4 linked regions of the Homo sapiens genome follow. The protein of the gene in region 1 interacts with the protein of each later gene in a pairwise test. Each region holds a gene or a part of one and is shown in the gene's direction. Other genes may lie near its edges.

Region 1 (7,028 bases):
TTAATTCAACAAATATTTATTGAGTGACTACTGTGTGCCAGGTACTGTTCTAGATGCTCCAACAAAACAAAACAAACAAAAATACCTGCCTTCATGTTCTAGCAGGAGAGAGGGTCAATAAACAACAAATGTGATAACTAAGTAAATTATAAAGTATATTATAAACTGTTAAGTGCTATGGAGAAGAGTAAAGGGAATGATGAAGTGGGTTGTGATTTTTAAGTCAGGGTAGGCCTTACTAACAATGTGATGTTTAAGCAAATACCTAAAGCTAATGAGGAGTTGTCTGTGTGGATATATTGGGGAAAGAGCCTTCTAGGTAGAGGGAATAGTCAGTGGAAAGGCCCTAGAGTGAGAGTGGACTTAGCATGTTCTAGGAACAGCAAGGTCAGTGATGACTGGAACAGAGTGAGCAAAGGGAGTCAGAACAATTGGCTAATGTAATGATTTAGAAGTAAAATCATCAGTAATGATTTAGACGTAAAATTGTGAGTAAAACCAACCACTATTCTAAGTGCTTTCAACTCATCTAATCTTCATAACAGCTCTATGAGGTAGGCACTGCTACTATCATCTGCATTTTCACGGATAAGGAAATTGAAGCACAGAGAAGAGGCCAGAAAAGTAGGCCAGGACATACAAAGCCTTGAGTATCAAGCCAAAGAGCCTGAGTTTTATTCTGTAGGCAGTGGTAAGCCATTAAAAATCTCGATTATGGAACTAAAATGATCACAACTGTGCTTTAGAAAGATTAATCTCATGGGATTCTTTGGAATGGATCGGAGGTAGGACAGTAGGTGATAGGAATTGAATTAAGGTGGTAGTAGATGGAATACAACAGAAAGAAATGTGAGCAATTATACAATGCATATTTGTTGAATAATTTAGCTGGAGAAAGCATCAGAAAAATCCATTATGACAAATCTTATCATTTAAGGTCATTTCTTTAGTAGAATGGTGATTCTTAAATTTGGGGGAAACACTGTTTCCTTTGAAAAGCTGATGACAGCTATGAACTCTTTCACTAGAAAATGCACAAGCCCATGATCTTATATGCAGGTTTAGTGGTTTAGGACACACTAGAGTACATGTAGGCTAAGAACCTCTTTGGATCTCAGAATTAGGAGACCTGGGCCTGAGTCCTGCTGGGTCTGGTGTGAACTAGCTGTGACTTTGGGCAAATAATTTACTTCTCTAGACTTTATCTGTAAAAGGAAGTTTTAATTTTCGGTTACTAGATCTTTAAGGGCTCTTTTAGTTCAGAGGGACAAAGTTTCTATTTTCATGGCACTTACTTAGGAAATAGACAACAAATAAGTAAGTAAAGACATTTGATAAGTTAGATTGAAGTGTTATAAAGAAAATTAAAGCAGGGTAAGGAAAAGAAGAATGATTATGTGCATGCGTATTTGCATACTGGTTTTGATAGGATAGTTAGTGTGATCTTTGTGTCTCTATACTATGGTTGCACAGTTTGCTTTTTGCTTTGTCTCCTGACAGGAAAGAATTGGGATGTGAATGCCGCCCTCAGTGATTTTGAACAGCTACGTCAAGTCCATGCTGGAAACCTACCCCCATCCTTTAGTGAGGGGAGTGGTGGCTCCAGGACCCCTGAAAAAGGGTTTTCTGACAGAGAGCCTACTCGCCCTCCCCGACCCATCCTCCAGCGGCAGGATGACATCGTTCAAGGTACTGGGGTGACTGGAATGTTTCCGTATATGGAGTAGGAAGGGAGGGGATTGTTAAATGGAGTCATAAAGTCTAGTGATCCATTGGAGGTGATTCCATTTCTTCCCCTTCTCCCAGCCAAACCCAGACTGAGGTGGCCTCAGTCTGCCCAGGTGCTGCAGTCCCTCACTGCGTCTCTGCATCTTTAGTGTTATCCTGTATAAAAGCCTTCCTCAGATACTGTGAAAGAAATAGAGGAAGGAGGATAACAATCTCCTTGTTGATATAAAGTTCACATAAAGGTAGAATTGAAAGAGTCATTACCTCTTTGGGGGGTAATTTGTTAATATTTGCCAATATCTATCAAAATTAAAATGCATATGTACTCTGACTTAGCAATTTCATATCTAGCAATTTATCATATATGTGTATGTGCACATAAGTATTCTCTAAATAAATACATAAGGCCAGGTGCAGTGGCTCACACCTGTAATCCCAGCACTTTGGGAGGTCGAGGTGGGTGGATCACCTGAGGTCAGGAGTTCGAGACCAGTCTGGCCAACATGGTAAAACCCCATCTCTATTAAAAATACAAACATTAGCTGGGCGTGGTGGTACATGCCTATAATCCCAGCTACTTGGGAGGCTGAGGCAGGAGAATTGCTTGAACTTGGGAGGTGGAGGTTGCAGTGAACTGAGATTACACCACTGCACTCCAGCCTGGGTGACACAGTGAGACTCTGTCTACAAAAAAAAAAATAAATAAATGAATAAAAATTAAAAAAAGAAATACATAAATGCAGCATATAAGGATATTCACAGCAGCATTATTTTACAATAATTAAATCTTGAAACTTTTTTTTTTTCTTGAGGCAATCCATCTGACTTGGCCCCCCAAAGTGCTGGGATTACAGGTGTGAGCCACTGCACCTGGCCCTGAAAACATTTAATGTCCATTAGTAAAGGAATGGTTAAGTAAATTGTAATCATCCATGTTGTGGAATACTCTGCAATCATTAGAAAGAATTAGGCAGAACTTGGTGTACTGTTTTGGAAAAATTTCTAAAATCTATTCAGAAGGGGGCTGGGCATGATGGCTCACACCTGTAATCCCAGCACTTTTGGAGACCAAGGCTGGTGGATCACCTGAGGTCAGGAGTTCGAGACCAGCCTGGCCTACATGGTGAAACCCTGTCTCTGCTAAAATTACAAAAATTAGCTGGGCATGGTGGTGCACACCTGTAATCCCAGCTACTTGGGAGGCTGAGGCAGGAGACTTGCTTAAGCCCAGGAGGCAGAGGTTGTAGTAAACCTCTTAGATTGCACCACTGCTCTCCAGCCTGGGTGACGGAGTGAGACTCCATATAAAAAAATATATAATTTTTTTCAAAAAGGTAAGACACAATGCAATGTATGTAGTATACTCTCATTTGCGTTTTAAAAGATGATTTTAAAAGCTGTACATGCATTTTTAGTGGAGATGGGGTTTCACCGTATTAGCCAGGATGGTGTCGATCTCCTGACCTTGTGATCCACCTGCCTCGGCCTCCCAAAGTGTTGGGATTACAGGCGTGAGCCATCGTGCCCGGCCAAAACCTGTATATGCTTCTGTATGCATAAAAATTTCTAGAAGGATACAAAAGTTTGCCTCTGGGGAAGGGATCAGGAATTTTGAATGATAAGAAGACTTCCTTGTGAAATCATTTTATACCTTTTGATGGTATATTGATTTTTTACCATAGGCACATGGTACTGTTTTTGAGGCAGGGTCTTGCTCTGTCCTCCAAGGCTGGAGTGAGGCTGGTGGAACACAGCTCACTACAGCCTAAACCTCCTAGGCTCAAGGGATCCTACTGCCTCAGCCTCCCAAGTAGCTGGGAGCATGGGCACGCACCACCTCACCTAGCTAAATTTTTGATTCTTTGTAGAAATTAGGTCTCACTCTGTTGCCCAGGTGGTCTCGAATTCCTGGGCTCAAGTGATCCTTCTACCTTGGCTTCCCAAAGTTTTGGGATTACAGGTGTGAGCCACCATGCTCAGCCTACGAATACCTAAAAAATATTTTTAAGGTGGGTGTGGTGGCTCACGCCTGTAATCCCAGCACTTTGGGAGGCCAAGGCTGGCAGATCACCTGAGGCCAGGAGTTTGAGGAGAACAGCCTGACCAATGTGGAGAAACCCCGTCTCTGCTAAAATAAAAAAAAAAATTAGCTGGGTGTGGTGGCGTGTGCCTGTAATCCTAGCTACTCAGAAGGCTGAGGCAGGAGAATCCCTTGAACCTGGGAGGCAGAGGTTGCAGTGAGCCGAGACTGCAGCACTGCACTCCAGCCTGAGCGACAGAGCGAGACTCTGTCTCAAAGAACAAAAACAAACAAAACTAAAAAATATTTGAAAAATAACATCACTATAAGATAACTTTAGACAACTCAGTTTATTTTGTGTATCATATCTGGCAAATGTTGTATTAAGAACAGCCCAACATGCTTTTGAAATTTTGCCCCCTTTGGATCATCATTAAATCATTACATAATTGAAGCCATACAAATGAACTGTAATACTACATTGAGCAAATTATAATCACAGTGGAATATCTGCTTGGGAATTACAAGTGTCATGTATTCAAAACAAATGAAATGATGTGGGGTACTATCTACATTATTGTTCTCTATAGACTGTTAAGAATTGACTGTCCCTATAAATTTCTGATAAATATGGGTATTGAGAGTAGTTGTAGTAAGCAATATAAATTAATGTTATTGATGTAGGAAGAAAGTTCCCAAATGTGTAAGATTTGTTGTTGATTGTCTTTTTTTTTTTTTTTTGAAACGGGGTCTTGCTCTGTTGTCAGGCAGGAGTGCAGTGGCACAATCTTGGCTCACTGCAGCCTCCGCCTCCCAGGTTCAAGCAATTCTCCCACCTCAGCCTCCCGAGTAGCTGGGATTATAGGGGCACACCACCATGCCCGGCTAATTTTTGTATTTTTAGTAGAGACAGTGTTTCACCACGTTGGTCAGGCTGCTCTTGAACACCTGACCTCAGGTGATCCACCTGCCTTGGCCTCCCAAAGGATTTTCTTTTCTATAATGGATTTCTTTTATAATCTTTCTAGAATGAAAATACCCTTTAGAAAAGGTATTTCCCAAGACCCTGAGAATTACCAGAGAGGTTATTTGACTAACTCTAGTCTAGTGAAACCTCACTTCCCTTATTCCCTCTCCTCCCACCAAACAATGACCAAATTGCTAAATGAATGGGTCCCTATCACACTGGGAAATATGGAAGTGGAGGAAGACAGTCAGAGGGAGGGGAAGATCAGGCAAATTCCAAACAAGGGCAGAAAGAGGAATGAATAATTTGGTGCTAATGTGAGTGCCTACAAAAATACTGTCTCTATTTCTCCAATTGTATTTGGCTTCAGAAAAAGGGTTCTGAAATTCAGTAGTCAGTTAGACTTAGTTTTTCTCTGACTGTAAACCCTGTTGAGAGGTAACTATCACCACATCAGTGTAGAGTTCTCCAAGTGGGCTGTGTATGTTCTAAGGTGACTCCATTTCTCATTGCAGAAAAACGCCTGTCTAGGGGCATCTCCCACGCCAGCTCCAGCATTGTTTCCCTGGCCCGGTCCCATGTCTCCTCCAATGGTGGGGGTGGGGGGAGCAATGAGCACCCCCTGGAAATGCCCATCTGTGCCTTCCAGCTTCCAGATCTCACTGTATACAATGAAGACTTCCGCAGCTTCATAGAGAGAGACCTCATTGAGCAGTCCATGCTGGTTGCCTTGGAACAGGCAGGTCAGTGAGTGCTTCCTCTCCCACACTCTTCCCTCTACTCTCCACCTACAGGCAGCCTTGTGGAGGGGCTGGACTTGATCGCTAGCTTCCAGTTTAAGTGTGTTATCTGATTGCAAAGTCAGGAGTCAGTGGGATAAACTTGTGCTGTCAAAGAATGGATACAGATTAGATACTTTACTCTGGGAATTTCCTGGTTGATGGAAGAGAAACCAGATACACATGTGAAAAGGCCTAGGAATCAATACCTCGAAATCAATACATGAAAAAAATACAACTAATTATAATTGGCCCTGGAACACCCTTGTGAACAGAAATGACCAATGCTGTAGATGATGCACAGTAGTGAACCTATCCCCCCAAATGTATTTACGTTTGTAATTGTGTTTATCTTAAATTATTGTTAAAATTAATTCTTATCATAGGGTGAGGCAGCTGGGAATTTTGGAAAAGCTAATCAGGCATTAAAATGCTTGTGTGGGATAAGAACTGGAGTTAGATGAGGGCATGGAAAGGAAGCTTTTATTTTTCATTTTGTAACCTTCTATATTAACCATATACATCTATTTGTAATTTTTTTTTAAGTTGGTAAATTATCTGGTCTGGGGAGTTTATAAGCCAGTTTTTCATTCAGTAGTTCAAAAACTATGCTCCACAGTAGTTCAAGAAAACTTATGCATCACTCATAAGATATTTTCCTCATGTAAATAATGGGTTGGCAATTGTGGGATGACTGCATGGAATTAAGACTTATTTTCTTGGATATTTTATGTACTTTATCTTATTGCTCATTCCTTTAAAGTCACACCCCACACGTGATGACATGCTGTCATATATGCAGATGATACTCATAAAACACCTTAAATACATGCTTTGAGTTGTTTTTGTTTTGTTCATGATGGATTTTTGCTGAGCTTTGTTGCTGTGATACATACTGGTCTCCTGAGTGGAGGGAAGGAATCAGGGCCAGTCCAAGCAGTCAACAGTTTCAACTTATGTCCTTGGCCTCGTCATTTAACCCAGGGTTTCTCAACCTTGGCACTATTGACATTTTGGTCTAGATAATTCTTTGTTTTGCAAGCTGCCTTGTGCATTATATCATGGTTAGCAGCATCCCTGGCCTCTACCCATTAGATACCAGTAGCATCCTGCTACCAGTTGTGACATGCAAACATATCTTCAGTCATTGCCAGTGTCCCTTTGGGACAAAATTGACCCTACTCACTGATCTAACCAATTGTGCTCACAAGATTCTGACTGACTAGATATAAGTGAGGAAGATATAAAGAGTAATCAAGTGATGGTTTTATTCTGGGTAGGCCTCCTAGAGGAGGCTGCTTTGGAGTCTGTTTCAGAAATAGGAAGGTGGAAGGGCTTCATGGATAATCTCCTTTTCCTCCACTATCTTGTTTCTACAGGGCGTTTGAACTGGTGGGTGAGTGTGGATCCCACCTCTCAGAGGCTGCTTCCTTTGGCAACTACTGGAGATGGGAACTGCCTCCTGCATGCAGCCTCCCTTGGTGAGTCTTGAAAGCAGTCCTCCATTCACCTGCAGAAAGGAAGCAGTTGAGTC
Region 2 (7,028 bases), on another chromosome or scaffold:
GCTGTGAAGTGGTTATAAAACCATTTTGACAACATAAACATCATGATTGCTTCCTCCCTGGTCAGGCTCACAGCCTTTGTTCTGAAGACTTTTGCCCAAGCTCGAGCCTACATCTTCATCGATGAAGCACACATTACCCAAGCCCTCATATGGCTCTCCCAGAGGCAGAAGGACAATGGCTGTTTCAGGAGCTCTGGGTCACTGCTCAACAATGCCATAAAGGTGAATCATTCTGGAGCTAGTTTTGATTTGTCCATTATGATATCTGCAAGGATGAGGATAGGAAGTGATAATGTGAAAAATTCTAAGGGAAAGCCTCAGAGGAAAATAAAACCTGGATGGCACCAAAAAAGAGGGGATAGAACAAAAGTTGATTGTGATACTTTGCCCTATAGGGATGGATATGGGTAAGGATGAATTCCATGACACAGCAGAATAGAAAGAACTAATCAATAGCATTCTCAGAAGTTGAATTATTCAGATCTCTCTCTCGTATTCACAGGGAGGAGTAGAAGATGAAGTGACCCTCTCCGCCTATATCACCATCGCCCTTCTGGAGATTCCTCTCACAGTCACTGTAGGTACCACCCCATTCCTCTGCTGAAGGAGAGTTCTGGATGCAATGAAACTGCTGACCTGCTGTCTGAAATACTATCCTATTAAAAGCAAAGCATCAGCTTTCTTTCTATGCAATGCCAGTGCTTCCCAGATCTACAGAGAATTTGGTCAGCCCATTAAGAAAGGTTTAAATTTTCCCAGTAATTCCCCTAGGCTATTTACCACCACCACTCAAAAAAGAATCTTAAAGATGTATCTTTTGAATGTGAGAATAACAGATAAAAATAATATTATATCTATTGATAAGAATGAGGAATCGTTGGAAAAATGCGTTTGAAAAACTTCTGTGCTGTGATCCGTGTATTTGCCTGGGAATGCTAATATGCCTGTTTACATAGCTTAGTTCCCTTCTTGTTCTGCCTTCACAGCACCCTGTTGTCCGCAATGCCCTGTTTTGCCTGGAGTCAGCCTGGAAGACAGCACAAGAAGGGGACCATGGCAGCCATGTATATACCAAAGCACTGCTGGCCTATGCTTTTGCCCTGGCAGGTAACCAGGACAAGAGGAAGGAAGTACTCAAGTCACTTAATGAGGAAGCTGTGAAGAAAGGTGAGAGCACACCTGAGATCCTTCTCCTGGCCCATCCTCTGTATCAAGAACTGCATGGCAAAAATCCCTCACTCCTACCTCCTGTGATCCCTGTCTCCTCTCTTCTTTTCTATATATCATATATATTTTGTCCATATTGCATCTTATAAAATCTAGGATTTCTTAATCAAATCAGAAATCAGAAGACAAGAGGCCGTGCAGATGCTTCTCAATTACGATGGGGTTATATCCTGACAAACTCATTGTAAAGTCTAAAAAATCTTAAGTGGGACCATTGTAAGTCAGGGACCATCTCTATAGTATGCTGGTAAGAAGAGCATTCTCTGGAGACTAGCTCCAAAATGTGCTACCTATGTGAGCTTGGGAAAGTCATTAACTTCCTTGTGTTTCAGTTCCTTCATCAGTAAAATGGGGATAATAATAGTATTTACCTCACAGAGCTGTTGTAATAAATGAATTGGTACACGTAAAACACTTAGTAGAGTACATGTCACATAGCAAATCCTATAAAAGTACTAGTTATTACAATTAACATATCAGTTCTCAATATATGCCCAACCCTTACCTGGTACATTATATAACCTTAAACATAAGAAAATAATCATGGAAGTAACTCCTTGAATGAATTCTGGTATTTTAAGCCCATTTCATAAGACCAATAATGTTGACCAATCTACTCATATTCACACAGTACTTCTACATATACCATGGTCTATATGAGCGGTTGAAGAAATAGAAAATAAAATGCAAATCACAAGATGTCCATTAAAACAGTCTACCTTTTTCCTTTGACAGCCATTAATTCTTCTTAAAATGTATTGAGAAATATTTTATAATAGATATACAAAAGGGCATAAGCTATAACTAGAAAACACTGTACAACTCTCTCATAGATTAAGAAATAGAAAATTACCGACATGGGAAAAATAAATCCCTTGTGTATCACTACCACCTCCAGAGGCAATCATTATCCTGAATTTGTCGTTACAATTCCATGGATTTCCTTATATTTTTGCTGCATATGTATCCCTAACTAATATTTAGAATCTTCACATGTGTTTCATCTTGAGAGAAACAAGATTTTTATTTCTCTCTTATTCAAGAAACAAGAGAAACATTTTTGAATATTTCAGCAGCTTAGTTTTTTGTTTGTCTGCTTTTTATTTTCTAAGTTCAACACTATGTTGATGAAGACCCCTATACAAGTATGTGCAGAGTCAGCTCATTAATTTTCACTGCTGCATAATATATTACAGTCTATAAATTAGTCATAATTTACACATCGAGTTTCTCCTCATGGATTTTTTTTATGTTTTGCTATTAAAAAAAATGCTGCAATGAATACTCATGTGCCTGTTTTCTTGTGCATCTGTGTTTCTCCAAATTATGCTTTGAGAAGCATAATGACTGATTAGTGGGCTAAGCACATCTTCCCCATTGCTGAATATTGCCAAAGAGCAGTTGGCTTCCCACAGCAGTGTATATTGGTTCCCATTGTTTCACATCCATGTCAGCCTTTGGTATTTCAAGGATTACTGTATTTTTTTTTTCAATTTAATGAGTAGAAACTCTACTATTTCATGTGATCTGTGATCCTCACAAGAAACTGATAAAGACACACTTTATAGGAAATGTAACAAACTCCAGCTATAGTCTAATATAACATCATAAATAGGAAATAGCCAGACTCAATGAGACAACTGCTGTGCCATTTCTTTCTCCCACCAACCCGACTATAGCAACGATTTGAAAACATAGATAGGCATAGGCTTCTGACTCCAGCATCAATATCTGCCTTAGCTGGGCTAAAACACACCAAATTCAGATTTACATGAAGGGAAAAGCATCTACATACAGTACAGGGGATTATAATGGGCATGCAATTCTCATTTCAGCACTGGCTTGGGTACTTTCACCTTGAATTAAATATAAATATGTAGGCACTTATAAATATCTTTTTCTCATCTTTAAGACAACTCTGTCCATTGGGAGCGCCCTCAGAAACCCAAGGCACCAGTGGGGCATTTTTACGAACCCCAGGCTCCCTCTGCTGAGGTGGAGATGACATCCTATGTGCTCCTCGCTTATCTCACGGCCCAGCCAGCCCCAACCTCGGAGGACCTGACCTCTGCAACCAACATCGTGAAGTGGATCACGAAGCAGCAGAATGCCCAGGGCGGTTTCTCCTCCACCCAGGTTGGTGATTTGCCAAAACCTTTTATTTCACCTTCAGGTAGCAAAAGATTTGAATGAAAAAGAAACAAACACATCCAAGAAGAAAAAAATACAGATGACAGTAACTTGAAATGAGGAAAAGTTTTCAGTATCCAAGGATAATGGAAATAAAAGCAAATCAAAGTCAAAGAGGGCCAAAAGGAAATGCTCAGAATCCCGGCACCCCATCGCTGTGTTATTATCCATCTCCTATTTCCCATAACAACACTGCCTTCCTCAAGCAGCAGTGGAGCACCAGCAGAATGAAGGAGATGTCTCCTGCCATTCTCCTGAAAGCTCTAGGGTCTCTTTCAAACTGTTCAAAGGAACTCTACTCAAAATCCAACAACCTCTCCTCGCAAATCTCTCCATTCTTAGGTCCCCTTTAATAGGCTTTTCTCAAAACTACACATTTTGTGCTTCCCCTATTCACCTTTTTTTTTTTTTTTTTTTTAAGACAGAGTCTTGCTCTGTCACCTAGGCTGGAATGCAGTGGTGCAATCTCGGCTCACTGCAACCTCCATCTCCCAGGTTCAAGCGATTCTAGTGCCTCAGCCTCCCAAGTATCTAGGATTACAGTCATGTGCAATCATGCCTGGCTAATTTTTGTATTTTTAGTAGAGACGAGGTTTTGCCATGTTGCCCAGGCTGATCTCGAAGTCCTGAGCTCAGGCAATCCATCCGCCTTGGCCTCACAAAGTGCTAGGATTATAGGTGTGAGCCACTGCGTCCAGCCCCCTATTCACCTCTTAATACACAAACATTTATTCATCAGGAGCATAAAGAACTGTCTTTATTCATCCAACCTCCTAAATCTAGCTATATAACCATGTATCTGAACAATTCATTGATATGTACACAGCAGAAAGTTTTATCTTCAGAGAATTCGGATGTTTGCTTATATACCCTAAAACGGAAAAAATGTGACAAAATGGCATTCCATCCTATTTCCATTGTATTAATCTTTTATCATATGAATGAAAAAAACTAAGTAATTTTGTTAAAGGTTATCATTCATTTATTAGAAACATATTATTTGAAGGAGGCCAAGCAGGTTTAATGTTGTTGAGGATACATACCAGCAGACATTCACTGGGAACAGGAAATCATCCAATAAAAAGGGAAAGCCAAATAAAAATGTCATTAAATCCAGAAGATAATTATAATACTCATCTTTTATTTCTTTTGGAGAAACTGAAGCATGACTCTGCTCATGGCTGCAAAGAACCTTGGGTTCTCTCCAGGACACTGACCTCAGCAACTGAGCAAAGTTTAATATGGGAGAGAGCCAGACTGAACTTTGCTTGAGTGGTGGCAGATATGAGCATAGTTGTCAAGAAAGACATGTTAGCAAATAGCTGATGCCAATAACTGATTGCCATTCACATGTTTTCCACATTCCATGTCCCACATATACTTACAGAGAGAAAAGGATCAATTTTCTGATAAATAAAATAAACATGTAGGGCATACAGTCCAAGGTAGATATGTGAATGTTATGGTTCTTCAACTATCTAAAGATTATAATCAATCTTGAAATTACAGCTCCTATATTTAAGTAGTGAGGGAAGTAGGAAATCAAAGTCCCTCACATGGGTCTTTGAAAAATATCTCAGCCCTCAAAGCCTTATAATGCCCAATGGGTTCTCTCACTCATCTGTCTCTAACAGGACACAGTGGTGGCTCTCCATGCTCTGTCCAAATATGGAGCAGCCACATTTACCAGGACTGGGAAGGCTGCACAGGTGACTATCCAGTCTTCAGGGACATTTTCCAGCAAATTCCAAGTGGACAACAACAACCGCCTGTTACTGCAGCAGGTCTCATTGCCAGAGCTGCCTGGGGAATACAGCATGAAAGTGACAGGAGAAGGATGTGTCTACCTCCAGGTGAGACTCTTGGGCAGGTGAGGACAGGACAGATGAGGACAGCAGCTGTTCTCTCTGAGAAGTCCTAACTCAGAAAACAATGGGACAGATCAGAGAAAGGGTTAGGGACGTGGACAGGAATTCTGGGAAAGGGCAAAAAACTGATTTTGTCTTTGATGTTCTATAGACATCCTTGAAATACAATATTCTCCCAGAAAAGGAAGAGTTCCCCTTTGCTTTAGGAGTGCAGACTCTGCCTCAAACTTGTGATGAACCCAAAGCCCACACCAGCTTCCAAATCTCCCTAAGTGTCAGGTAAGACCTTCTGACTCTATCACCTAATCCTAAGAATAACCACCAGTCTTCTTTCGGGAACTCCTCTTTAAGTAAAGCAGTGCAACAGTAGATATTTGCACTATTCACAAAAAATGCAATGTATTCTCTTAAGTTGATATAATTTCTCAATGATGGGGTTTACATTGTCCATCCAGGATCTACTATTGTGCAACCTCATTGTTTAAAGGGTAATAATTTCCCTCAATAACAACTAAGTAAATATTACCCATTGCCTCTGACCTGAATTCCTTGTTATGTAATGAAATCCTATATTATTCTTGCTTTATTGAAGATAGAGATGAAGAATTATTGAAAAGTTTGAATAGAAGGAAGTAGTGACTCCTTAGTTAGAATTCCTACTGGCAATAATAAATCTCAGGTTATATATGATATAATTAATTTGGGGGGAAGATACACTTATATGCATCAATATTTAAATAGCTGCAGATCTGATAAAAAACTCTCTCTCCACAAACATATTATTACTTGGTTGGAGATACTATTCAGGAAAAAAGTTAGGACAAAATACATGTAACAAATAACTGGCACACATCAAAAAGAATGAGATCATGACCTTTGCAGGAACATGGATGGAGATGGAGGTCATTATCCTTGGCAAACTAGCACAGGAATGGAAAACCAAACACTGCATGTTCTCATTTGTAAGTGGGAGCTAAATGATGAGAACATATGGACACAAAAAGGAGAACAACAGACACCAGAGCCTACTTGAGGGTTAAGGATGGGAGGAGGGAGAAGATCAGAAAAAAACAACAATTCAGTGCAAAATTTAGTACCCAAGTGATAAAGTAATCTGTACACCAAACCCCCATGACACGAGTTTACCTATATAACAAACCTGCATGTGTACGCCTGAACCTAAAAGTTAAGTATATATATATATATTTTTTTCATTTAATTTGGTGTATATATATGCCAAAAAATAAATTAAGCAGTCCAAATTTCGGATGCAAACTCTCGGGGACAAGACGCTAGGTGTTTCTAAGTGTTTTGTTGAAAGCCAGTGTTTAAGTAAACATTATAAATTATTGTTGTTTTTGTAAATAATGTAGACTGAAATTTATTATTCATAATATACATCATTTTGTCAGCTGAAAGAAAATAAAAGTAAACAAATAAATAAAATAACTGGCATAGATTAGAGGTCACAAACAGCCTGTGCATCACTTGTAGAGCTTTCTTAAAATGCAGATCCTCAGCCGGGCGTGGTGGCTCACGCCTGTAATCTCAGCACTTTGGGAGGCCAAGGCGGGCAGATTACCTTAGGTCGGGAGTTCAAGACCAGCCTGACCAACATGGAGAAACCCCGTCTGTACTAAAAATACAAAATTAGTCGGACGTGGTGGTGCATGCCTGTAATCCCAGCTACTCGGGAGGCTGAGGCAGGAGAATCACTTGAACCCAGGAGGCGGAGGTTGCGGT
Region 3 (7,028 bases), about 140 Mb from region 1:
CGCTGCAAGCTCTGCCTCCCGGGTTCATGCCATTCTCCTTCCTCAGCCTCCTGAGTAGCTGGGATTACAGGCGCCTGCCACCATGCCCACGTGGATCACGAGGTCAAGAGCTTGAGACCATCCTGGCCAACATGGTGAAACCCCGTCTCTACTAAAAATACAAAAATTAACTGGGCGTGGTGGCACGTGCCTGTAGTCCCAGCTGCTCGGGAGGCTGAGGCAGGAGAATCACTTGATCCCCAGAGGTGAGGTTGCAGTGATCTGAGATCGCGCCACTGCAGCCTGGTGACAAAGGAAGACTCCGTCTCAAAAAAAAAAAAGACTTGGAGGATTTATTTGTTTGGGGTTGATTTAGTTTTAGGTCTAATCTTTATGATTCTTATCTTATGTATTAATAAAAGAAAAATCTCTTTACATTTAATTCTGGCCTGTATCCTCAAAGGGCATGATTTGCTTCTTGCTTTTCTAGCATGGTATGTTAAATTATAAGACTCTTTGCCTCTTTAACTGTGCGCTTCCTTCCTTAGGAATCAGAGAAGATCATTGCTGAGTTGAATGAAACTTGGGAAGAGAAGCTTCGTAAAACAGAGGCCATCAGAATGGAGAGGTCAGGAGGTTAAAATCTGGAAATGTTTCTAAGTTTTCTAGGGGATGTGGATTACTTTATCGTAAGAAAAGATAAAATATAAATTAAAATCAAAGAGTCTGCCCTTCTAAAACACAAAACGAAACCAAAAAAATGGACAGGGATTTATGGCCAGTTGAATTTATGCTTTGAAATGACATCTACATATTTAAATATTATCTAGGGAGTCACAGGTTTATTAGTTACCATATTACATGTTGCTAGGGATTCATAAAAATGGAACATATTGGCCAGGCGCGGTGGCTCACGCCTGTAATGCCAGCACTTTGGGAGGCTGAGGTGGGCAGATCACGAGGTCGGGAGATCGAGACCATCCTGGCTAGCATGGTGAAACCCCATCTCTACTAAAAATACAAAACAAATTAGCCGGGCATGGTGGTGGGCACCTGTAGTCCCAGCTACTCGGGAGGCTGAGGCAGGAGAATGGCGTGAACCTGGGAGGCAGAGTTTGCAGTGAGCCGAGATGGTGCCACTGCACTGCAGCCTGGGTGACAGCAAGACTCTGTCTCAAAAAAAAAAAAAAGGAATAGCCTCTTCTTTTCTTTTTTATATTAATATGCATATCATTTATGAATTATTGACTATCCCAAAGTCAGTTGAGACAAAGTTCTTATCTCAGTGAATATAACTTTAACAAAGCAAGATTTCATTGATTTTGAATGTGATGTTGCTTTTAGAAATAACTTCTCATTAATGATGAGATAAGCACATTATTTTATGTTTGCATTATTGGCTATAAACATGGCCAGTTGTTTTTGCTTTGCAGGCTTTATTTTCCAATTCATATTAGACTGATTTAATTGACATTTTGGTATTAGTGTTCTGATATACCTGTTTTTTTCCTAGAGAGGCTTTGTTGGCTGAGATGGGAGTTGCCATTCGGGAAGATGGAGGAACCCTAGGGGTTTTCTCACCTAAAAAGGTAGGAAACAATGCTGTGAAACCTAATCAGACAGAGACACTTTTTGTTTGTCTTTGTTACTGGGGCACTTCATGTCTTTCAGGACCTACTCTCCCCCTTATTATCTTGATACTTGCCTTAATTTCAGATATTTCTGATTTCATCTTAGAGCATGGTCTTATAGTACAAAGGCAGCCTATTTCTAAAATGCCTATCTTGTTTACTGTTTACAAAAGAAAAAACCTAAGGCAATATGTAACCTTTGGCCATGATTCAGTTTGTTTAGTCATCTTTATTTGTTGCTTTCTCTTAAATTCCCAGCCTAACCTAGCGTACTTTCAGTTTTGGCTACTCTTTCATGTAGATTTTCCCACAGAAGTCGTCTACCCTGCTTTATAACTTTTTGGAACCAATTTCAGCTGTACAGGTTTGTGGAGAATAATACTGCTTCCATTTGCTTCTGCAATTTGTATTATAGACAGCCATTGTACTAAGTAAAGCAATTCCTGTCCCTATCCTTCTAGACTCCTCTGCTTCCTTCTTCATTTTTTAAAAAGTGTCTCCAATAGTTACCTTCCTTTTTACATAATCATAGTTATGAAGTAGTTACGTAGCTTTTAGCTAATTAGAGTAGTAAGGGTTTTTTTGTTTTTTTCTTAAACTAAGTTGCAACGTCTTGTTGGATACTAGAAAATGACTATCAAATGGTTATTTTGTGTGCTTATGTATCAGAAAATAGGAGAACATATATCGATGTACAAAGCATGTATTTTATGCCACTAGTAAATTGTCCTTTATTTCAAGTGACCTCACATTGGCTATTGGAGACTTAAACATCTTTATTCATAGGTTCTGTTGATGATCTCTCTAAGTTAGGATACAAGGGGTGGTGAGTTTTGAATTGGTACTTTTATGTGATATGAAATATTCCTGTGGTTTTCGCTACAATTCTTCTGGTCAGGTTTTTCTATCCTGGCCACATAACTTTTTTTTTTTTTTCTTCCCAAATTCCAATGTGTTATTTTCAACAGAAAAGACTGATGTAAAGACATTTTAGATGCATATTGTAGAATAGAACAGTTAAGTATTTTATATGTTTATATTATGAAAGGTTAGTGGTTTTCACAGTTTTAATAGTTTTTCCTTCAGTAAGACATGTATTCATTCAGATATGTTACTTAGGATTATATAGATTTTAGCAGTTACAGTTTTGGTGGAATTTAATTGTGCCTATGCATATGTCTAATAAAGGTATTTTATAACATCTTACAGTATTAAAGACTGTGAGGAAATTTTTTTTTTTTTTTTTTTTTGAGACAGAGTCTCACTCTGTCGCCAGGCTGGACTGCAGTGGTGTGATCTTGGCTCACTGCAACCTCCGCCTCCCGGGTTCAAGTGATTCTCCTGCCTCAGCCTCCCAAGTAGCTGGACTGCAGGCACATGCCACCACGCCCAGCTAAGTTTTGTATTTTTAGTAGAGACGGTTTCACCATGTTGGCCAAGGGTGGTCTTGATCTCTTGACTTTGTGATCCACCCACTTCAGCCTCTCGAAGTGCTGGGATTACAGGCATGAGCCACTGTGCCTGGCTGGAAAATTTTTATTATAACAACTAGTGAAAATATTATGCATTTAACATAAATCATAAATAACTTGAACAAATGTTGAGATGTACACTGCATGGAATTCCAAAGTGAGATCTCTGCTTCCAAAGCTTTTTCTTACTTTAATTTTACCCATCTTGCTTTAGCTTTCTAGACTTCTTCATGAAAGGAAGGGATATACCAGTGACCACATCCAAACTCAGTCTTAGGACCTGTTTCTGAGATTCCATTTTTCAAATTATGATGTGCTTTAAAGAATGCTACTCACAAAGGGCTTTGACTTTCTCAAACCAGTCAAGTTCTTCAACTACAAAGGGGGATGCTAGTTGAGAAGATGTGGAGGTTTTTCAGATTTCTCTTTAACCATCTTTTATAGTTCCTTTTCCTACCCCCTCATCTGACTCTTCTTTCATTCTTCCACATTTGCTGGCACTCTCTTGAGTAGATTTTGGCCTCAAGACCATGTGACTTATTTTTGGATTCCAGTGGGTTATTTTCACTAAAGAAGGTTGGTTTTTTAAAAAGATTTTAGAAATATTAGAGTTAGATGAAGAGGATTGTTAGAAGATGTTTATCTTATCGAATATCAGTAATTTTACTTTTTTCTTTAAGGTAAAGACTAATAAATTAAAATCTTTTAAGGTAAAGACAAATTAATAACTGGGATCAGAAGAACTGATAAAAATTATAGTGGGAAGTGGTGGGGGGGTATGGGGACATTTTAATAAAAGTAAATATTTCTTGAGATTTTTACCCAGGCATTTACAAAAATTATAATTATTCCGTTCAGAGAATTGGCCTGTCATTTTTTCCTTGTGCTTTGACCTTATCAAAAATTAGGTCTTGTTTTTTTATCCCAGAACTCATGTTTTAAAATGGAATGCCAGGCACAGTGGCTCACTCCTATAGTCCCAACACTTTGGGAGGCCAAGGAGGGTGGGTCAGTTGAGGTCAGTAGTTCGAGACCAGCCTGGCCAACATGGTGAAACCCTGCCTCCACTAAAAATAGAAAAATTAGCCAGGCGTGGTGGCGAACACCTGTAATCCCAGCTACTTGAGAGGCTGAGGCAGGAGAATCACTTGAACCTGGAAGGCAGAGGTTGCAGTGAGTCAAAATCATGCCGCTGTACTCTAGACAGAGCGAGACTCTGTCTCAAATTAATTAATTAATTAAAATAAAATAGAATGCACTTGGTTCCGTTTGGTGAGGCCTGAAGAGAGTGTTTTCTCTTTATTATGGAACCGCAACTAGGGATAAAAAGAAATCCCTCTCTAGGCTCTGTGGAGAGTTGGAGAAGCCTGGCCTCTTGTAGGCCCCTGTTGTTACCACAGCTCTCTCATGGTGCCCTGCTCCAAATTGATCATCTGTAATCTTTTTCAGACCCCACATCTTGTTAACCTCAATGAAGACCCACTAATGTCTGAGTGCCTACTTTATTACATCAAAGATGGAATTACAAGGTATATTTATTTCCTGTTTTGGTCACTTCGTGTGTTTTCCCCCTCTTAGATAATTGAATAACTAAAGGGAAGGGGTTGAAAAAATTAACGTAATGATTTGCTGTATTTTTTGTCTGAAATAGTTACAAACTATGCTCTCTTTCCAAATAATGTGTTTTTGCCACTGGAGCCAGTTACTATGTAGTTTTTCTCTGAAGACCCTAAATAATTTTTTTTTCCTTTAACAAATATACATTCCTTAGGGATTTTATTTGACTCATGTCTTTATAATACTGTATGAGTTACATTGGTATATCAGTGCTCCTTGTTTCTTATTCTGATGTAGAGAGGTTGATCATATGTGAGGATAGAATTCATAGTTGAAAGCTTCTGATGCAACAAGGCAATACCTTTTTTGTACGTACCAAAGGATATTCTTTGGAATAAAGAGGTTCATTGTTTGTAGTGCTTTCTGTGTCTGAATTTCCCTGGGAAACACTTTCTCTTGTGTTCAGGGTTGGCCAAGCAGATGCTGAGCGGCGCCAGGACATAGTGCTGAGCGGGGCTCACATTAAAGAAGAGCATTGTATCTTCCGGAGTGAGAGAAGCAACAGCGGGGAAGGTGAGCATTCCTGGCTGGAGCTTCAGCAACAACATTTTCATTTTATATTATGAGAAATCCTTAAGACTTTGTATTCTCTGTCTATCAGTAGTACTTTCTTATACAATCTAATTCTGAAAAATGGAGAGACCTGGGCTGCTTATGAATGCAGAGATGGACAAGGCTGCTTTACATGAAAATAGCTTGGACAAAAGAAGCCCTTTTTTACTGCCAAGAACTGAGAAGGACATAGGCAATTAGGCTTGGTCTGGAATGTTAATTATTTAATAGAAAAGTAAGAAAATAGCAGATATCCTGGGTAATAGGAGATTTGAAGGACATTAAGTCAACCCAGCAGAATTTATTTTTATCTAAAAGGGAAGAAAAAGTCAGTCTTGATTTTTGCCTGGGTTATTAACAAAACAACAATTTAATGGTTTTTTTCTGTTATATAAGTCACTCATTCCCTTATCAAAATATTAGCTTCTCAGTCTTTAGTTTCTGGTTATTACCTATATCTCATCCTTACAATTTCTGATGGTTCTGAGTTTTATTGACTGAACCGTCAGAGATCCCTGAAACTAATATTTCCTATCATCTTCTTAGGTTTATCAAATAGAGTTAAATGTTCTTGTGTTAGCCATGGCCACAGATAGCCTCTTCTATTGGGGCTAGTTCTGGTACCCCAAAATGAACTACTGTATAGACAACTTCAGCCACTTGATTGATTGCAGGGATTTATTCTACTTACTGCAAATCCTGATAAGCAACTGCTTTCCATTATTTGATTCCAATAGTTTGTAATGATAACATTAGTTTGTGTTTGTTCCTCTTAGTTATCGTGACCTTAGAGCCCTGTGAGCGCTCAGAAACCTACGTAAATGGCAAGAGGGTGTCCCAGCCTGTTCAGCTGCGCTCAGGTGAGACTGGGAGAGGTTTGCCATCTTCAGCAATGTGCACATGGCTTCTGTGACAACTCTAATTTTTGGCTGTTTAAAGGCTGAAGTAATAGTCAGCATTAGGATTTTTGTTCTTGTAAAAACAACAGCTCTGAAAGCTGTCTTTTCACATTAGGGAGGGGTGAGGTTGTTAAATAGATACTATATATTAAAAAAATTATTTCTTAACCCTATTTTTCTGTTTTGTGCTAGGAAACCGTATCATCATGGGTAAAAACCATGTTTTCCGCTTTAACCACCCGGAACAAGCACGAGCTGAGCGAGAGAAGACTCCTTCTGCTGAGACCCCCTCTGAGCCTGTGGACTGGACATTTGCCCAGAGGGAGCTTCTGGAAAAACAAGGAATTGATATGAAACAAGAGATGGAGAAAAGGTAATGCACAGTTACGCAGCCCATATGACTGTTTCTTCTTTTAAACATGTAATACTAATAGCATTCTTGAATTTTTTTTTTTTTTTTTACTTCTAGGCTACAGGAAATGGAGATCTTATACAAAAAGGAGAAGGAAGAAGCAGATCTTCTTTTGGAGCAGCAGAGACTGGTAGGAGTCCTGAATCTGCTAAACTGTTGGGAAAAGGGCAGCTTGTTCCCATACTTTCCCTGTTCCACAGAGCAGTACTCACCCAAATTGCTTCTGTCTCAATGATACCAAGCACTATTCTTTAATTTCCTTAATGGAGAATGAACTTAAATCTCCCGGTAGCCTTAGCCTGAAAAAATAGTCCACAGAGGTACTCTTTTGGGCTTTTTATGTCTTAAAGCCAAATCTTAACTTCTGTTACAACCAAATACTTTTTAAGGAAATAGAGCTTTTCTGGTAGCCTTTGCCTCTTGATAGTGGTTTTGGAATTTGCTTCAGTGGTGGTTCTTTAAATGA
Region 4 (7,028 bases), on another chromosome or scaffold:
GGTGAACATGGGAGGCAAAAAGTTTGAGAAATGGGAGGGTGAAAGGTGGTTCACCTTAAATGTGCCCACAGAGAAAGGTGGGAAGATGAGTGTATGCCGTTTATCCTCAGTAGGCTGTTTATGCTGTTTACATCGAAGGCAGAGGAGGTTAGAAAAGGAGAAAAGTTCTCTTCATGCTCTGAGCGTGGCCTGGCTGTGAAATAGTTTCAGTAATTCTCAATCTGGTTACTGATTTACAAAGTTGACTGAATATGTGATTGTTTTCCAGGTTGTGCTAGAATACTGATGGAGGGAATACAGAGGCAAATCTTGAAAAAAATTAGAGTGGGTTCAGAAGAAATTATATATTGGGCAAGTAATATTTCAGTATAAATGAGATTATATGTTTGGAAACTCCTAGTAACCTCCGAAGGGCAAAGTCAGTGTATTTGACAATACAACTCTCTGTGTGTATGTGTTCATGTACTTCCTCATAATCATTGAAAATCTTCCAGATCCCCTTCTAGCTCAGGCCCTCCTCATATCTTTTGGGTACTAGTTCAGCTTCTGCAGATTCAGGGACAAATTGCAATAATAGAATATACTTCAGTCTTGCTGTTGAGATAGTAAGAAATCATTATGAGGAGTCATCAAGGTAATCAGCAATTCGGAAATTTCTCACACCTGTTATAATGTGTCAAACCATATCTTCATGTTCATGGTTTAGCAATATGTGCTGTTGACAACATGAAATAAGTGAATTTAATTATAGAACTTAAAATGTAATATGTAAGACATTTAAAAAGCACAGGAAATAGAAAAACCCATGAACCTACCACCCACATCAAATGTTAATATTTTGCCTTATTGTGTATCTTTTCTCTTTTTGCTTTTGAAGCAGAATGGCTCATGCAGCTAAGGCACTCATGCCCCTCTTCGTCTCTCTGGAGAGAGAACTACTGTTTGGAGTTAAGTTTGTGTCAGTGCCATATTATTAAAAAAATTTTTTTTAACCATAGGTATATCTATCTACAAACTATATTTTAATGTTTAATGTTCTGCTGACTGAAGTTAAGAAATATTTTTAAAATTATTGTAGTTCTTCACATGATTCTCCACATGGAAAAATGTAATAATTTCATAATTTTTAATTTTAGTTAGCATGGTATTAGAAACATAGAAAACATATTTTTGGCGTAACGTTCTGACCTAATAACATAAATTGAAGTGGCTTTTAAGCTTTTTGTAATCTATAGAATGATGTGTGTTTTACATTTTGACCTAGTACCTATCATCTCTGTATGTATATATTTCTGTGATGTTTATATATAATACGGGAAAAGTTTCCCCAAACTAGTTTCCTGTACTGTGTGTGATTTATACTAGTCCCTTCGTATTTGTGGGGTGGGGTGTAGAGGTGGTTCCAAGACCTCACATGGATACTAAAAATCTATGGATACTTCAGCCCCTAATATAAAATGGGGTAGTATTTGCATATAATTCATACATATTCTACTGTATACTTCACATTGTCTGTAGATTACTTATACTACCTAATACCGTTCATTTAGGAAACAATGATAAGAAAAAATGTCTGTATGTATTCAGTACAGCCACATTTTTTTTTCCTGAATATTTTTTATTTGTGGTTGATTTAATCCATGAATCCAAAACTCAGGGCTATGAGAGCCAACTGTCCTCTGTTATTCTCTAGACTATTGACTTTTAAAATGCCTTTCTCAGGCTTAGTAAATTGATTTTTTGACCTAATAATAGATTGCCACCCATAATTTGAAAATCATTAAGAGTAATCTTAAATTTGATCTAATCATAATTAATCTAAAATTAAGACTGACTTTTAATATATAAGCACAAGCTTTTCCAGTATAATAAAGGTGTTTTAAATGATAGGTCAATACATTAAAATAACATTCTTTACACAAGATTTGATTATATTTATTTTAGCTAATTCATTAATTTTTGTAAATTAAGTCCGTGTATGTCTTACCCATTTAAAAATTAGATATTAATTAATTGAAGTGTTTTAGAGAATATGCGATGGTTAATGTAGAATATTTTCTTTCTGTCTATTCTTACCATGATTTACCTGGAGGGAAGGAGGGCCATCATTGTGTCAGGGAAGGGGAAGGAGCTCTTGAGCTCTTGCTGGCTTAGATGTTGACCCCCAAGCCCTGTCACCAGTGAACTCTGTACAGCCTTAGAAAACCCCTTCTTCCTTCTGGCTTTCAGTTTCCTCACTTATTAAATGAGGGTGTTATCTAGCTCATCTTGAAACTACTTTTATTCTGTGAAACATAAGGTAACTAGGACCTGGGCTTCAAGATATTAGAATCGGTTGAGAATATGAAAAGCTGATGAAAAAGAACAGGGCTTTCTGTTCGAATTACTGGTTTTGCTGTTATGTTTGAGCGAGGATTAAGCAGGTTGTATCCAGTTGAATATAGTTCTTGGGCAAGAATTATTCCTCCATTATAAAACCATTTCAAAATAATCTTGACCTCCCCAAGATCTCCCTCCCTTTTTGTGGCATTATCCCTCAGTCGTGAAGGACACAACTAATGTTGAGTGTATATGTGAACATACATAAGTGCAAAGAACGGCAAAGGAACGTTTTTCATTCTGTTTCAGTTAAGTGTCCTCATAGGCAAATCCAAAGCTTCGGAAAGAAATCTATCACTTTTCCTAAGCCCTGGGGAATGTTTCATGAGTCCTACTCAATTGCAGTAATCTGAGGCTTTGGGGAATTTCCTTTTTTTAACATGAATTACATGCTTGGAATAGAGTGAGAACATATCACCTAAACTACACGTCCTTAAAACAGCACTTTACATGATGAATCCTTCATGTTTTGTCTGTTTGTATGTTTACGAAGCAGGAGTTTAAATTGCAGCTTGGGGTAAACATGGATACCATTGTTTACCCCAAACCATTTCTTCAAGACCATTTCTTCCCATTTTGCTTCTGAGAAGACAGGTCAGGAAATGCCCTTGCCTGGCTCTTCAGGTGGAGGCAGAGTTGGGGCAGATTCCTGGTTTCCTTCAGGGTTCCCATTTTCTTTTGGTTTGTAGATTATTTTGGGGCAGCCCAAGGTTTAGAGGGACCTAGAGACCTAGTTCTAACTCATGTCCCTGGGGATTGACCCACTGAAGAATGTTTAAGAAATTAAGAATTTTTAAAGTAGAGCTCTGCCCCTACCTGAGGGACTAGTGAAAATATATTTTTTCTTGAAAGACGCCAGGGTAGACATAAATTGCTGGGAGAGGATCGTCTGAACCACAGGGAAGCATAGATTAGATTTCTTTTAACACCTCTAATTATGCAGTAACTCAGTTCTCTCTCAGTAGCAATATGCAAAGCATGACTGATACGTCTGTTATTTCAGCAGCACTTAACCCTCCATTTATAGAAGTGGATTGGAATTTCTAGACCTCTGGAATCTGATTCTGTAAATGTTCTCACCTCAGGCCAGGGGCCAAGGCTAACCAGTATTTTGTGACACCCTGTGCTTGGCACTAAGCAGGCACTATAGATTTTTGTGACTAAAGACTGCATACTTAACTAGTCACTATTTTATGCATTGAGAATTATAAAGTGTGTCATTCTGAAATATTAGAATTGATTTTTTTTAAAGTAAAAAAAAAAAATCCTTTCCTTTGTATGTTAAAGTATTACTAATGAGCCTTCCTGTCTGTTTTTCCTCCATCTACTCTAGTATGCCGAGATTTTGCTGTCCTGGAGGACCACACCCTGGCTCACAGCCTGCAGGAACAAGAGAGTGAGTAATACCTCTCATTTATGCTCCTTCAGTTTTCTTTTTTTAGTGGTAGCTTGAGGCTGGTTTCTTAGGGCTTAGGTGGGGAGAGAGCACAGTCACTTGGCTTCACCATCCATACATCCTGAAGGATTTCTTTAGGCAAATGATGCCTGGGTGATCAGTGAAGTTTCGGGCATGTTAAGTAAGATAGGCTGCCAGGAATTAGTAGACTGCTGCGTCTGTAGGAGGAAAAAGAGAGGTTTGAACCTTTTTCCTAGCCTCTTGTTGTAGGAGGGACACAATGGTTGTAGATTTATCTGGGGTGCGTAGAAGGAATCTATTCTTGCTCCTAGGATAGGGACTTGAACAGTTTTCCCAGGCAACTGTGGTATAAATGAGATCACATTGTGAATTTTTCTGAATCTTTTTTTCCATGTGGTGATGAAAAGTAAATCTAAGCTATGCATGTTATATTAAAGTACATACTTGTGAATATATGATTTGTGAATTCACATATCAATATAAAATTGACATTTTGAAAAATGCGGTTAATAAATAGAGTGACAACATGTAGTAGTAGAAAGAGCATTGGCCCTGGCTTTAGAATATTTGTGTAGATGTCCTGGCACTGCCACTTTGTTGCCGTGTGACCAAAGGCAAATTATTTAATCTTTTTGATCCTCTTTTTACTTAATGGAAAAGTGGGGATAATAATTCCTTGCTCTTTATTATATATTGTTGTTGAGACAATAAAATGAAGTGATGGATGCAAAGCTGTTGTTATGGTAAAGCTCTTAAGATTATTATGGCATTTATTACTAACAAACCAAGACATTATTCATTCCTGTCCTCAATCTTTTTGTTCCAGTTGAGCATCATTTGGCATCGAACGTTCAGCGGAACCGTTTGGTCCAGCATGATCTCCAGGTGGCTAAGCAGCTCCAAGAGGAAGATCTGAAAGCGCAGGCCCAGCTCCAGAAGCGCTACAAAGACCTGTGAGGATTTGGGAGGTGGGAGGGGTGATGCAAGACTGGTTTTCTCTGTGGAGCTAGCAACCAGGGCAGGGGAGAAGGAGACTACTTCTGTTCCTCTGATTCCTTCTACTGTTAGATTACAAATCTTACCCTGGATGTCTAACAGTTTTTTTGATTTGAAAATGTTTTGTTTTTGTTGGAGCACTTGACCAGGTTTAAGGACATGTTGATGATGGTGTGAATTTTAACATTTTTTAGCTGTTATGACCTTGGGCCAGTTAGTCAACTTCTCTGAATTTATTTTCCTTACCCATAACATGCGGATAATAATCTCTGTCCCCTCTGCCTCATAGTTTCTTTGGGGGATCCAGTGAAATAGTGGACATCAAATAACTTTATGGGTTGTATTGGTTCCTTTACTATGTTCTAGCTGTGTTTGCCGCTCTTACTTTCCTTGCTTTTCAGTACATAGCAGAATGTTCTGAAAAGCTCTGAAGTGTAGACTCAGTTTTTTTCATAACTTCAGTGTCTGACAAAAGTTCTCTCTAGTAGCCTCCTTTAACACACAGATAAACGGAAATGATTATTTCTCAGGTTTCTTTTGGCACAGTGACTTTTATTCTGTTTCAGTGTTATAAAGCTCCCAGGATACATTTCTTCTTTGAGAGTGGCTCTTACATCCTAAATCTTTAATGTGGGTAGATTTAACCACAGATACTGTGTTGAGGAGGAAGGGGTAAAGGAAAAATGGAAGGAACCCCTTAATTTACTTCAGTGTCATATTCAGGTAAAAAGGAAAGCCAGTCATTTTTGCTAACTTATAGGAAGGGTTTGTCTTTCTGTTTATTATTTGTAGAGAGGACTTTATTAATCATTTTGTTAAGCTTCCCTTATTTTGTAAATAAACACTTTTATTGATTCATGCTAAATCTGGCACCATGAAAGGAGACCAGAGATATGAATAAGACAGCTGTTGCCTTTAAGGGCCTCAGGAAAACACCTTGAGCATTGTGTATCTAGAGATACGTGCATGAGTCACAGAGAATTGAAATGTAAATTTCAGGCCTATTTAGAGAGAAGAGACTGGGAAAAGCTTCACAAGACGATGTGTTTAATCTGAAACTTGAAGGTTAATTAGAAGTTTATAGTGATGGGGAAAACCATTCTAGCCAGAAGGAGCAGCATGCATAAGGGCAGGAGGTAAGAGGACTTGGAATCAATCTCACGTTAGCTGCAAGAAGTTCAGTGTTGCTGGAGTGGAGAGTGTATTTACAGGCAGAAGTAGGAAGTGAGGCCAGGAAAGTAGTCAAAAGCTGGATCAAAAGGGTCACGATAAGTTATGTTAAAGATTTCAGGTTTTGTAGATTTTAAATTATAAGGAATGGAGAACCTTTGAAGTAGTTTCAGATTTTCATTTTGGGATCTATTCTGTAGACTAGGTGGGTAAAGGCTTGGAGTGGGCAAGATTTGAAGGCAGCTGTTGAGCAATGGTCAAATTAAGAGATGGTGAGGCTTGAATGAGGACAGTGGTGACAGAGAGGAAGGAGATGATGAGGCCTAAATTGAAGGTCATGGTAATGGAGATGTAAAGAGGAGGAGAGATATTTGAGATGTTATGAGGCTCAGTGTCACAGGTTAAGGTGAGAACCAAAGCTAGAATGTTCTAGAGTTCTAAATTCATTGCCCTTTACATTATTCACAATTCTCTGTTAGAAAGGCCAGTTCTGAGGTTGATGCAGATGTTTAAAATCCTGAATTAGGTTAATAACAGTATAATGAGCTTTTTCAGAAATTATCAAGACAAACCACTCAAATATAAATCAGGAGTAGAGAGTGATATTTTATAGGTCCTAAAGGAGAGAAGAACCGGGTATTATATTTCTGCCTGAGACTTCAAGGTTTTGAAATTGTTCCTGGATGAAATAAGTAAGCTAGAAGGGAAGTCTTTCAGTTCACTCCCTGGCAATTTTAATAGCTGTACATCTTGGGAAGGATGAAATGCTGCAGTTTTCATTGAACTGGAACCTTTTATTCAGTCTGGATACCCGGGCTGCCGTAAGTCAGGATTACCGCTTGTTTACTACTGCTTTCTCAGTTTCGCTTTCCCAGGAGTCTGTATAATTAGCTGACTGAACCAGAGATGGTACTTCTTGGAAATATGGTTTGAAATCATTAAACTCAGATGAAGCTTCACTTATTTATTTTCTGTACCAGGAGATACATCTTCTGTGTCACTTGTGACCTTTAACACTTCATTTGGGTTTGCCTTCTCTACGGTGCTTCTACTTTCTTCCCACTTA

The links.
Region 2: the proteins of OTUD7B (region 1) and A2M interact in binary tests that used the Homo sapiens proteins (3 or more experiments, as listed by UniProt).
Region 3: the proteins of OTUD7B (region 1) and KIF1B interact in binary tests that used the Homo sapiens proteins (3 or more experiments, as listed by UniProt).
Region 4: the proteins of OTUD7B (region 1) and CCDC50 interact in binary tests that used the Homo sapiens proteins (3 or more experiments, as listed by UniProt).

What each region holds. Positions count from the first base shown.
Region 1 is NC_000001.11:149,965,724-149,972,751, reverse strand, and holds part of OTUD7B (OTU domain-containing protein 7B), read left to right. Parts: intron 1-1,500; coding exon 1,501-1,689; intron 1,690-5,230; coding exon 5,231-5,458; intron 5,459-6,873; coding exon 6,874-6,975; intron 6,976-7,028. UniProt on the Homo sapiens protein: Negative regulator of the non-canonical NF-kappa-B pathway that acts by mediating deubiquitination of TRAF3, an inhibitor of the NF-kappa-B pathway, thereby acting as a negative regulator of B-cell responses.
Region 2 is NC_000012.12:9,070,895-9,077,922, reverse strand, and holds part of A2M (alpha-2-macroglobulin isoform a precursor), read left to right. Parts: intron 1-65; coding exon 66-222; intron 223-502; coding exon 503-577; intron 578-986; coding exon 987-1,167; intron 1,168-3,139; coding exon 3,140-3,363; intron 3,364-5,051; coding exon 5,052-5,270; intron 5,271-5,436; coding exon 5,437-5,564; intron 5,565-7,028. UniProt on the Homo sapiens protein: Is able to inhibit all four classes of proteinases by a unique 'trapping' mechanism. This protein has a peptide stretch, called the 'bait region' which contains specific cleavage sites for different proteinases.
Region 3 is NC_000001.11:10,290,555-10,297,582, forward strand, and holds part of KIF1B (kinesin-like protein KIF1B), read left to right. Parts: intron 1-527; coding exon 528-607; intron 608-1,492; coding exon 1,493-1,568; intron 1,569-4,531; coding exon 4,532-4,611; intron 4,612-5,105; coding exon 5,106-5,212; intron 5,213-6,027; coding exon 6,028-6,111; intron 6,112-6,342; coding exon 6,343-6,523; intron 6,524-6,619; coding exon 6,620-6,692; intron 6,693-7,028. UniProt on the Homo sapiens protein: Has a plus-end-directed microtubule motor activity and functions as a motor for transport of vesicles and organelles along microtubules.
Region 4 is NC_000003.12:191,353,376-191,360,403, forward strand, and holds part of CCDC50 (coiled-coil domain-containing protein 50 long isoform), read left to right. Parts: intron 1-3,712; coding exon 3,713-3,775; intron 3,776-4,622; coding exon 4,623-4,749; intron 4,750-7,028.